2 separate regions of the Homo sapiens genome follow, and region 2 is linked to region 1. A link means that fine-mapping ties the variant in region 1 to the plasma level of a protein whose gene starts in the linked region. Region 1 holds a variant in brackets. A gene starts in the other region. All regions are shown on their reverse strands.

The links. PIP is the chance, under the fine-mapping model, that this variant and not a neighbour inherited with it causes the effect. Protein levels are from antibody-based Olink assays in UK Biobank. Linkage for the fine-mapping came from a reference panel and not from the study's own genotypes, which makes the PIPs less certain.
Region 2: TOP1 starts here. The variant in region 1 is fine-mapped to the plasma level of the TOP1 protein (UK Biobank, PIP above 0.99).

What each region holds. Positions count from the first base shown.
Region 1 is chr1:205,842,632-205,848,001 of GRCh38, reverse strand. It overlaps PM20D1 (peptidase M20 domain containing 1), which reads left to right. Exons shown (of 13, transcript NM_152491.5): 2 at 31-117; 3 at 2,445-2,677; 4 at 3,105-3,191; 5 at 3,785-3,915; 6 at 4,216-4,335; 7 at 5,251-5,326. Among named protein-coding and RNA genes, the nearest start is that of PM20D1, 4.8 kb to the left of the region's middle. The variant C/T (reference allele first, on the strand shown) is at 2,645.
Region 2 is chr20:41,026,450-41,031,819 of GRCh38, reverse strand. It overlaps TOP1 (DNA topoisomerase I), which reads right to left and starts at 2,998. Exons shown (of 21, transcript NM_003286.4): 1 at 2,720-2,998; 2 at 2,365-2,389. The coding sequence starts at 2,752. RefSeq lists silencers at 2,658-2,727, 2,948-3,299.

The DNA.
Region 1 (5,370 bases):
CAATCTTTCATCTCTATTTGACTCTGACAGGTGCCATCCAGATTCCAACAGTGACTTTTAGCTCTGAGAAGTCCAATACTACAGCCCTGGCTGAGTTCGGAAAATACATTCATAAAGGTCAGCTGCAAATCAGGGGCAAGGGGTGGGTGGTAGAAATAGCAATGGAGACACAGTTCTTTTACAAAGTGATAAAGAAGTTTATTTTGCGACTGATCAGAGGACAATCTAATTCCCATAGGCAGAGTAGAGACTGTAGATTTGCTCTTGGAAAAACTAAGCCACCATATGTAGGGCAAAGATTGAGAGTTCATCCAGCCATTGCATTAGAGTACAAACTCTCTCAAATTTTGCCCTACATGTGTGTCATTCAATAAATGTTAAATCATCAAAAAGTAGAACTAGGATTTCCTTCTACTTGTGCAACTGCCCAGAACTATGTTCCATGCTCCTCCCACCCCTACCTCCTTACACACCCAAACACACCGGTACATATACACTCCACGTACTCAGGCCTACCCCAGATTCATTACTAACACATTTCTAGGCCTCTAGGCAGTCAACAACTTTGAGCTATAACATCAGTCTTTTTCCCTCATCCCTACCACCCATTGAGTACAGAGCTGAGGAAGGATGGGTCAGAGGAAAAAAGGATTCTTGGAACTCCTCCCTCCCCTTATGAAAATCTCATGGAGAGTGATGAGATTACCTTCCTAAATCTAATTAAAAACAACCCCTCCAAAGTTGTCAGAGGTGGGAGAAGGTGGCCTAGGAGCAGCAAGCAGCCCCCTCTCTAACACCCTGGGACAAATGGCTCTGGGATTAGCCATGCATGGTGGCGAGCACCTGTAGTCCTAGTTACAGGAGGCTGAGGTGGGAGGGTTGCTGGATTCCAGGAATTCAAGGCTGCAGTAAGCTATGAATGTGCCACTGTGCTCGAGTGTAAGTGAGAGAGCAAGACCTTGTCTCTGAAAAAAAAAAAAAAAAAAAAAAAAAAAGAAAGGAAGGAAGGAAAAAACAAAAATGAGTGGCTCAGGGATTAATGCCCAGTAGCCAAGCTGAGGCCAGGCTGAAAAGGCTGCAAGTCTTTACTAAATAGGAGACAAACATAGGAAAGGAAATGTATAGTGACAGTAAACTGGATAAGCTAGGTGACAAGATAAAACCATAGTCTTCTTCGGTTTTCGGGTATCCACAGAAGTTTATGTGAATTCTTCCAAAAAACCCAGAGAGAGATAAAATTTATTTCTCCTATGTAGCTAAGGTCGCTTGAATAATTGACCCTAGGAACATCTACACCTGCACGCAGAAGTACGACCTTGTGCTAAACAGAATAATCTTTATGTTCACATAACACATACACTAGATGTGTGGCTTTTTAAAAAGAAAAATGTCTCTGAACTTTTTAATATAATATTTAAATATAATTTGGTTAATGAGGCCTACTAATTTAATATAATAATTTAATATAATTTGGTTAATGCGGCCTCCTATGGTCAAAATTTAATGCATCCCTCATCTGCATAGCCCTTTAACACGTACTTGTGATAGCATGTTATAGGTCTGACCAAGCCTGAGCTTGAGATATTGACCATCTTAATAGTGAGTCTTTTTTTTTTGAGTTGGAGTCTTGCTGTGTCAGCCAGGCTGGAGTGCAGTGGTGTGATCTCGGCTCACTGCAACCTCCACCTCCTGAGTTCAAGCAGTTCTCCTGCCTCAGCCTTCCAAGTTGCTGGGATTACAAGTACGTGCCACCACGCCCAGCTGTTTTTTGTATTTTTAGTAGAGACGGGGTTTCACCATGTGGGCCAGGCTGGTTTCGAACACCTGACCTCAAGTGATCTGCCCGCCTCAGCCTCCCAAAGTGCTGGGTTACAGGCATGAGCCACCACGCCTGGCCGAGTCTTTTTTTTTTTTTTTTGAGATGGAGTTTTGCTCTTGTCACCCACGCTGGAGTGCAATGGCGGAACCTCAGCTCACTGCAAACTCTGCCTCCCAGGTTCAAGCGATTCTCCTGTCTCAGCCTCCTGAGTAGCAGGGATTACAGGCATGAGCCACCACACCTCACTGATTTTTGTATTTTTAGTAGAGACAGGGTTTCGCCATGTTGGCCAGGCCGGTCTGGAACTCCTGACCTCAGGTGATCCACCTGCCTCGGCCTCCCAAAGTGCTGGGATTACAGGCATGAGCCCCCAAGCCTGGCCTTAATGGTGGCTCTTGATTTGCATTTATTACATAGTAATAGCACATTGAAATATGGGGAAGACGAATTTCAAAGATTGTCCAGGTAGATCAGGAATCAGACTAGCTTTGTCCTAGAAGGCTTCCTAAAGGAGGATGCATGTTTAAAAAAATAAATAAATAAAGGAACAGGAAGCACAACTTGGTAGGAAAACCTAAGGAAACTGTTAACCCTGGTTCTCTCTTCCTGCCCTTTTTGCTTCTAGTCTTTCCTACAGTGGTCAGCACCAGCTTTATCCAGCATGAAGTCGTGGAAGAGTATAGCCACCTGTTCACTATCCAAGGCTCGGACCCCAGCTTGCAGCCCTACCTGCTGATGGCTCACTTTGATGTGGTGCCTGCCCCTGAAGAAGGCTGGGAGGTGCCCCCATTCTCTGGGTTGGAGCGTGATGGCATCATCTATGGT[C/T]GGGGCACACTGGACGACAAGAACTCTGTGATGGTCTGAGATGCAATGTTCCCTCTGCCTTGGGGCCCTAAAGATCAATCAGGATGGGGGTGCTTGGCTGACCCTGGGAGGTGGGAGATAATGGTAAAAAGAATCTTGGCTCCAGGAGACCTGGGTTCCAGCCATCAGTTTGTCACTTCCCTTCTCTGGGCCTTGATTTCTCAGCTGTAAATGGGATTGAATGGTCCCCAGGGACCCTTTCAGTCCTGACACTGATATGTTTATGCTCTTCTCCAGGTGGTAAACGTTCTGTTTCTCCGCATCAGGTCCCCTGTACCATTTGAATCTGTTCTCTTTCAAGAGAATCTATCACATCCTCATCCCACCAGCCCTGATAACAGGCAACTGAATGTCTCTGATACCCTGGTATTCCCACCTAAATAACGTCTTTTTCCTCTTCCATTGTGCTTCTGAACCCCAGGCATTACTGCAGGCCTTGGAGCTCCTGCTGATCAGGAAGTACATCCCCCGAAGATCTTTCTTCATTTCTCTGGGCCATGATGAGGAGGTAGAGCCTCCTCACCTTATACCTATCTCTGTCCTCTGTTGAGGGTAGGGGAGTGGGTGCTTAACCCTAGTCCAGTTTGCCCACAGCAGCAAGGTCTCCATGATACGGTAGTTTGCCAACTTCTCCGTGTGTCTGTATGCCAGGACTATCTAAGGACCTTGACCAAAATTCAGATTCCTGGGCCCTGTGCCCTAGATCTGAATTTTTAACAAACTCCTTCATAATATCTGAGGCAGGCAGTGGGTCCATCACCTATACCCTAAGAAACATACGTGTGATGGAAAAAGAACTGAAAAGGGAGAGTGATGACTGCGTTTTATTTCCAATGATGCTACTTACTTAGACCCTGGGCAAGTCACTTCACTCTTTTGGCTCCAGTTTCTTCATTTGTGAAATAAGGGAGGGTGAGGCCTGCCAGCTCTGACATTCCAGAATTCTGTAAGGCAGGATTCTCTAGGGCCCTGGCTCCCAGGAAGGAGACTAGGTAGAAAGGTTCTGGAGCCCCTAGCTAGGCTGAATAGGTCCCCATTAGCTATGTCTGGAGGTCTGTCTCTGGCTGAGAAGGACTATAGCTCTATGTTCCATGTCTGCAGTCATCAGGGACAGGGGCTCAGAGGATCTCAGCCCTGCTACAGTCAAGGGGCGTCCAGCTAGCCTTCATTGTGGACGAGGGGGGCTTCATCTTGGATGATTTCATTCCTAACTTCAAGAAGCCCATCGCCTTGTGAGTAAAGCATCCCACCCCACACCTTGGAGGGAATTCTCACCCCATTTGAGATGACCCCAGCCTGGTATCTGTGAGCCATGCTGAGACAACTCTTTGTGTACACCTCTCGCATTAATCGCCCCAATCTTTAACCTCTCCTAGGCTTCCCCTTCCATTCTTCCTCCAGTATAAAATTTTTAAAGCAGCATGAAGCTACCTCCTTGCCCACTAGACTATTGCACAGATGGACCTATGGGCCTATGGGAGAATTCAGAGAGGCAAGAAGTCAGGAGAGTGGTTTCCGATCCTCTTCTACAGGATTGCAGTCTCAGAGAAGGGTTCCATGAACCTCATGCTGCAAGTAAACATGACTTCAGGCCACTCTTCAGCTCCTCCAAAGGAGACAAGCATTGGCATCCTTGCAGCTGCTGTCAGCCGGTAAGCAACTCCTGGCCCTGTTCCCATGCCAGACTTGAGATGGAAGCCCTGGCACTTTCCCACTTTAAATTTGAGGAGGCTAAGCTTCCTGCCCTAAAGTTGGGCTGGGAAACTATGCTATAAAAAATTGACACTAGAGGAAGAACAGAAGGGGAAGCCCAGGACAGACTAAAGATCCAGGTGATTAATACAACAGGTGTAAATAAAGAGTTATCTCAGCATGGCTCACAGATACCAGGCTGGGGTCATCTCAAATGGAGTGAGAATTCCTTCCAAGGTGGGGGTTGGGGGAGCCACAGGAGAGACAGAGCCACCAGTATCCTGCAAGGGCTGGAGTCAGAAGAGGATCTGTCAGTATATCCATATGGAAAGCAAGGACCTACAGGCAGAAGCTAGGTCAGGCAGCTAGAGTAGTCCAGAGTCCAGACATTTAGAATCACAAATTGGCAATGACTGGTAGAGCTGTCGAAATTCTCCACCTGTCCTGGCAGGAGGACAAAAATAAATAAGAGTTGCTGGCTATGAATGAGGACAGCAGAATCTGTAACAGCAGAGCTTACTCCTGGCTGGGTTTTCTTAGCAAAGTGGGAAGGAGTGCTATATTCATTCAAATTGTCAGGAGACTGACAATTCTGCTGTAGTATGGGATGGGCTATGAGAGTGGACACACAGGATTCTAGAGAACAGCAGAGGGAGGAAAGAAGGACCCTAATGCAGACTTGGTAGACAGGGAAAGCTCCTGGGGATGTTTTGAGATCTTCAGAATGTTGAGTTGGTGGAGGTGGGAGGGAGGTGAATGAGAGACCTCTTGGCCAGGAGCGTTGAAACTTCCTCCTATCTCCCTTCTTCTCCTCTTCAAGCCACTGATCTTTGGCTGGGGTTCGCTAAGTCTTGAGGACTCTGTTTCTCTTCCAGATTGGAGCAGACACCAATGCCTATCATATTTGGAAGCGGGACAGTGGTGACTGTATTGCAGCAACTGGCAAATGAGGTATGGGAAGAAGTATCACATACTCCTAATCAGCTAGGAACAAA
Region 2 (5,370 bases), not on the chromosome of region 1:
GATTTGTGGCTTTTTATTTTTTCATGCTAGTATCATATAGTATCACTCTAGCATAGTGGCTCAGCTCATGGGATTTAGAGTGGCCAACTCACAGCCCTTGGGCAAGCTAGTAAATACACTGAAGCCTCAGTTTCCTCATCTACAAAACAGAAATAACAGGACCTAACTCACAAGGGTCCTTCCAAGGATTACATTTAATTAGATGATCCATGGAAAGAGCTGAGATTCATGCCTGGCAGTAAGTATTCAATAAATATTAGCTATTATTGCTATTAAATGTGAGCCAACACATTCTAAAAGTCAACATACGCAGATTACTTCAGCCTCTATAAAAATGTCAGTAAAGATCAATAACCTAGCCAGCTCACAATCATTCACGTGACTTAGGTGAGAACCATGTAAGTTAACTTTCTCACAAGAAAGGGCTAAACTTTGTTTCATTACTTACATTACCTACTCAGCCCAGCCTGACAGCCAAAAGAACACATTCCATATTAAAGATCCCACCTTCCTCTAGCAAGGTCAAAAGGACTTCTTACATCCTCACCTGCACATCCTTTCTTTGCTCCTGTATCCCAAAGAAACATGTCTATACTGTGGCTTTCTAAACTGCAGGCCTCACCTCCTCCCTCTTTTAAAATCGTGATAGGTTGGTTAAACGTACTTAAGAAACACTCCAACCCCTGACAATTCTCTGCGCCCAGTCTTCCACAACCCCCAGCTCAGAAGTCACCTCCTCTGAGAAATTTCCCCACCCTCAGACAAAATTAACTCCCCTATACTTCAAAGCATTTTGGGTACACATATGCCCCAGTAGTTACCTTATAATTAACTAATTATGTCTCCCCCAATAGACTGAATTGAGAGCAAGGGAGTGTTATGGTTACAGGATCAGCTCTAGCACCAAGCACAGTGGTTGGCACATATCTGGTGCTCAAGAAATGCCATACTTTAAACCAGATTCTCTCCTGGCTGAGTACCATCTCCTGCTGGATGCCCCACTTCAAACTCTGAACATAAGGTTGCTCTCAGTAGAGCAGGCTAACATGATGGACTGCTGATTACAACATTAGAAAACCTACTCATCAACTTCTCCCATTGGAGAGGTTCCCGGAACCCAAACTCAATTGAGCAGGATTATGTACCATCAAAATCAGTGGGAATTCCCAGCACACTACAGAAGGTAACTTCTCCTTCAACAGGGTTGTTCGAAAGCCTGCAAGGATGAGCTTTTTATTGGAGGACTCTTCCCTGGGTAACTGAAGTGGAAATACAGTAAGAATAAATGCCTTGATTTGGCTGAAAAGGGTTCAAAAACATAAAGAATTGGGAAAAAAAAAAAAAGCCAGTTCTTGATTCCTGAAAAACAGTGGCTCGTGAAAAAGAATGAACAGGAAGCAGGGGTGGGTACTGGACACTCTTTGCTTCAATAAATAAAATCTTTTTTTCCTCCTTACAACCCAAACGAAAAGGCCAACACACCAGGTCCACAAGAGATGCTCAACAATCTTTCCTTCCAACAAGTACACTAAACTGCGTTTCCAGAAAAACACTGCATTGGGAACCTCGACCACAATGAAAAGTTCCAGTGACTAACATAATTTTTTAAAAATCCAACATTTACATTGGGTGACCCACAGAGAACTTGCAAACTTTCTTTAGGGAGGTACTGCTACCTTTGCAAAGAACGTAACTTGGGAAAAACAACCTGGAAATATAAAGAACTCCACAAAGCGTGGCTTTAGTTTTAGAGCCATAATTCCTATCATAAACAGCCTATCAAAAAAAAAATTAACAGTTGCTTAAGGAAATCTTTCATTCTGGAAGCAGAAAAGGAAACAAACATGAAGCATAAAGGGAATAACCCCCAAAATAAAGTTTAAAAAATAATAATTCAGTCCCCCAGCCTTCCCTCTCTGGTGAAGTATGTGATTTATACGGCTTTGCTCTGCAGAAAGCTCATTCTGGGCAGCTCAAGGAAAGAGCCGAGGGAGGGAGAGAAAGAGACACAGGCACAGAAAGGAGAGGAGAGAGAAAAAGAAAATGGCGCAGAGACTAAGTCCCGACCGTCGACAAGGCGACTTTCCCGGGAGGAATCCCGGCCCGGAAAGACCGCCCGAGGCCCGGTGGCGGACGACACGGGGTCTCCGTTGTCCCCTCTTGGGAGGGCCGGGATCTGGAGGAGCTGGGGTCCCCGGAAAGGGGGTCAAGAGGCGGCCCGATGGGAACAATGGGGCCGGTGAGCGAGGAGCCGGGACTTAGTCTCTGGGACGCCATGTCTGTCCTCTGCCCGGCACCGGCAGGGCGCGGGGGAGGCGGCCGGCGGCTGGGGGGCCCCGGAGTCGGCGCAGGGGGCACACTCACCATTCAATCGGAAATCCGCTTCGATCTGGAAAAAGAAAAGGAGAGAATATCAAACAACAGCCACTTTAACCCCTCCGGCGGCGAGCGCGCGCGGCCGGGGTCTGGCTCACCCTGCGCCCCCGGGGAGGACGGGGACCCGGGGGTGGCCACAGAGGGCAGCCATCCCTGCCTCGAACTGTAACTTCGCGGCCCTCGCTCGCGGCCTAGCGAGCCGATCTACTCCGGCAGGCGGCCCCTCACCGGGGGCTCCGGCCTGTCAAAGCTGCCGGGCCGGGGCTGGGGTCGGGGCCTGCGCCGGGGGTCGCGGGACGGCCAGGCCGGGGTCCGGGGCCGCCAGGGTCAGGCCGGGCCGTACCTGGGAATCGTTGTGGAGGTGGTCCCCACTCATGTCGGCCCGGAGGGACGAGCGCGGCGGCAGGCGAGGCGGCGTGGGGGAGACGCAGACGGCGAACCGGCCTGTGCGGGCGGACGGGGACTCCGGAGGCTCGAGGAGGCGCAGGTAAGCGGCGGTGACTGTGGGCCCGAGACTCCAGAAACGGCTGAGGCTGCTACCACGGCGGCGACGCTGCCTGACTGCCGGGCGGGCGGCGAGAACAGACCCCAGCAGTTGTGTAACAGCCTAAGTTCGCATTTGGGCTCACTGCGCCTGCGCGGCCGCTTTTAAACAACACGTCGGCGACGTCAGCGCTCGCGGAAAGAGGCAGAGGGTTGCGGCCCGCCCCCTCGCTGTTCGCCAGACGGACCTGTCTTTGCATCGCAAGCCCCGCCTCCGGACCGTGCGCGCTCCGCTGTGATTTGCATAAGGAGCCGACTCCTCCCACGGCGTCCCACCCCAAGCAGCCTCCCCTTCCTCTCCAGACGCTTTTTCTCGGAACCCCAGCCCCTCTGCTAGGCAGTGCGCAGGCGCCACCCGGGCACCGCCTCCGGACCAGGGCTGGCCGCGCAGCCACGTGGTGGGCCTTTAAAGGCCGCGGCGGGACCCAGCAATCTTGGGCAGAGCTGGTATCCGGCGTCCGCATCTCCTTGGAGCGGCGAGTACCTTGGCAGCTGGGACCCCAGAGGTCTCCCCAGCGCCTCCTTTCTTGCTAAGCCGACCCTGAGGCCGCCTGGTGGGAGGAGTCCCCTCCCCAGCCTTTGTCCAGGCCCTCCAACTTCTGGATTATTTCACGCCCACTTTTTAAAAATTATTTTAATTTTTCAACCAACCAAGGGTCCGGTTTAACCCCAGTTTTCCGCCGAGTACATGTAGCCCTGGGTCACCAAGGGTCTGATTTCTTTGGTTCATTCTACAAATACTTATTGAGCATCCGCTATGAGCCCAGGAATTGTGCTGAGGGAAGGGGGAATGCAAGAGACCAAAGGGAACTGAACCTGTCTCTATCCGCCCCTGTATCCCTGGCATGCTGGGAGGACGGGGCAAATGGGGAATAGAACTACCGTTTATAGAGCATCTATTCTGTGCCCAGCTCTGAATTCTCACAATAGCTCTGTGAGGTCGCCTGTATTACAAAAGTCAAACTGTCCTAAAGACAAGGGACCAACAGCCAGCTACCTTGCATCTATAGTTGGATACCTCTCAAGCTTCTCTGGGAATGAACTGAACTCCACTCAGCTAGAAAAAGCCCCATCCTGACACCTTCCTTTCCCTCATTTCCCACTAGTCCCGCTGATTGCATCTCTTTGCTTCATCTACTTCTCTCTGCTGCCCATAAGCCTTTGAAGTCTGCGTTCTCCTGCTTGGATTAATACAATGTGCTGGCTGGGGGTGGTGTCTCACACTTGTAATCTTAGCACTTTGGGAGGCCGAGGCTGGCAGATCACTTGAACCCAGGAGTTCAAGACCAGCCTGGGCAACATGGCAGAACCCTGACTCTACAAAAAAATACAAAAACTGGCGGGGTGTGGTGGCATGTGCCTGTAGTCCCGGCTACTCGGGAGGCTGAGGTGGGAGGATCACCTGAGCCCGAGGAGGAGGTCGAGGCTGCACTGCACTCCAGCCTGGGCAACAGAGTGAGACCTGGTTTAAAAAAAACAAAAAACAAACCAACAAAAAACACCGCACTCCAAAACACTACACTTCTAACAGGGATTGCTGCTTCCATTCTTGGCCCTCTCGTAAACTGCATTCCAACAATTGCCAAAGTGATCTTCTCAATATGCTAATCTAACCATTACTCCTTTGTGGATATTGCCACATCTATTACCACTTTCACTATTATTATTTCATATTTTAATTGATCTCCTTTTTATTTACCTTCATCCTAAGTGTTATCTGTGAAATAATATCTATGAAATCATTTGGAAGTAAATATGAAAACTGTTCATCCAGTGGACCATCAGTATCTTTATCACATCTAATGTTTACCATCACATGTTTACCATTAGATGTGTTTACCACATCTTGTGAATGCTTCAAGATCAACCTAAATATCACTTTTTCAAAGTGACTCTCCGGCGCACTACTGACCCTGCTTCCACTGGCTGACCAAGGGTGCCTTATAGGCCAGGCGCGGTGGCTAACGCCTGTAATCACAGCACTTTGGGAGGTCAATGTGGATCAATCACTTGAGGTCAGGAGTTCAACAACAGCCTGGCCAACATGGTGAAACCCTGTCTCTACTAAAAATACAAAAATTAGCAGAGTGTGGTGGTTCACACCTGTAATCCCAGCTACTCGGGAGGCTGAGGCAGGAGAATCGCTTGAACCTGGGAGGCAGAGGTTGCAGTGAGCCGAGACCGCACCACTGTACCCCAGCCTGGGCAACAGAGCGAGTGAGTCTCAAAAAATAAATAAACAAATAAAAATAAAAGGTGCCTTATAGTATCTATCTCCTTTGTAACACTTATGACACTTGTTATTAAGTTACAAATGTAGTAATTGGTTTCCTGTCTATTTCCCCTATAGCAAGCAAGGTCTGTGAGAGGGGGGAATCTTGTCCATCTTGCCTACCACTGAATTCCCAGCACCCAGCAACAGGCCCTCCTACAGAAGAGGTGCTCAAGAAA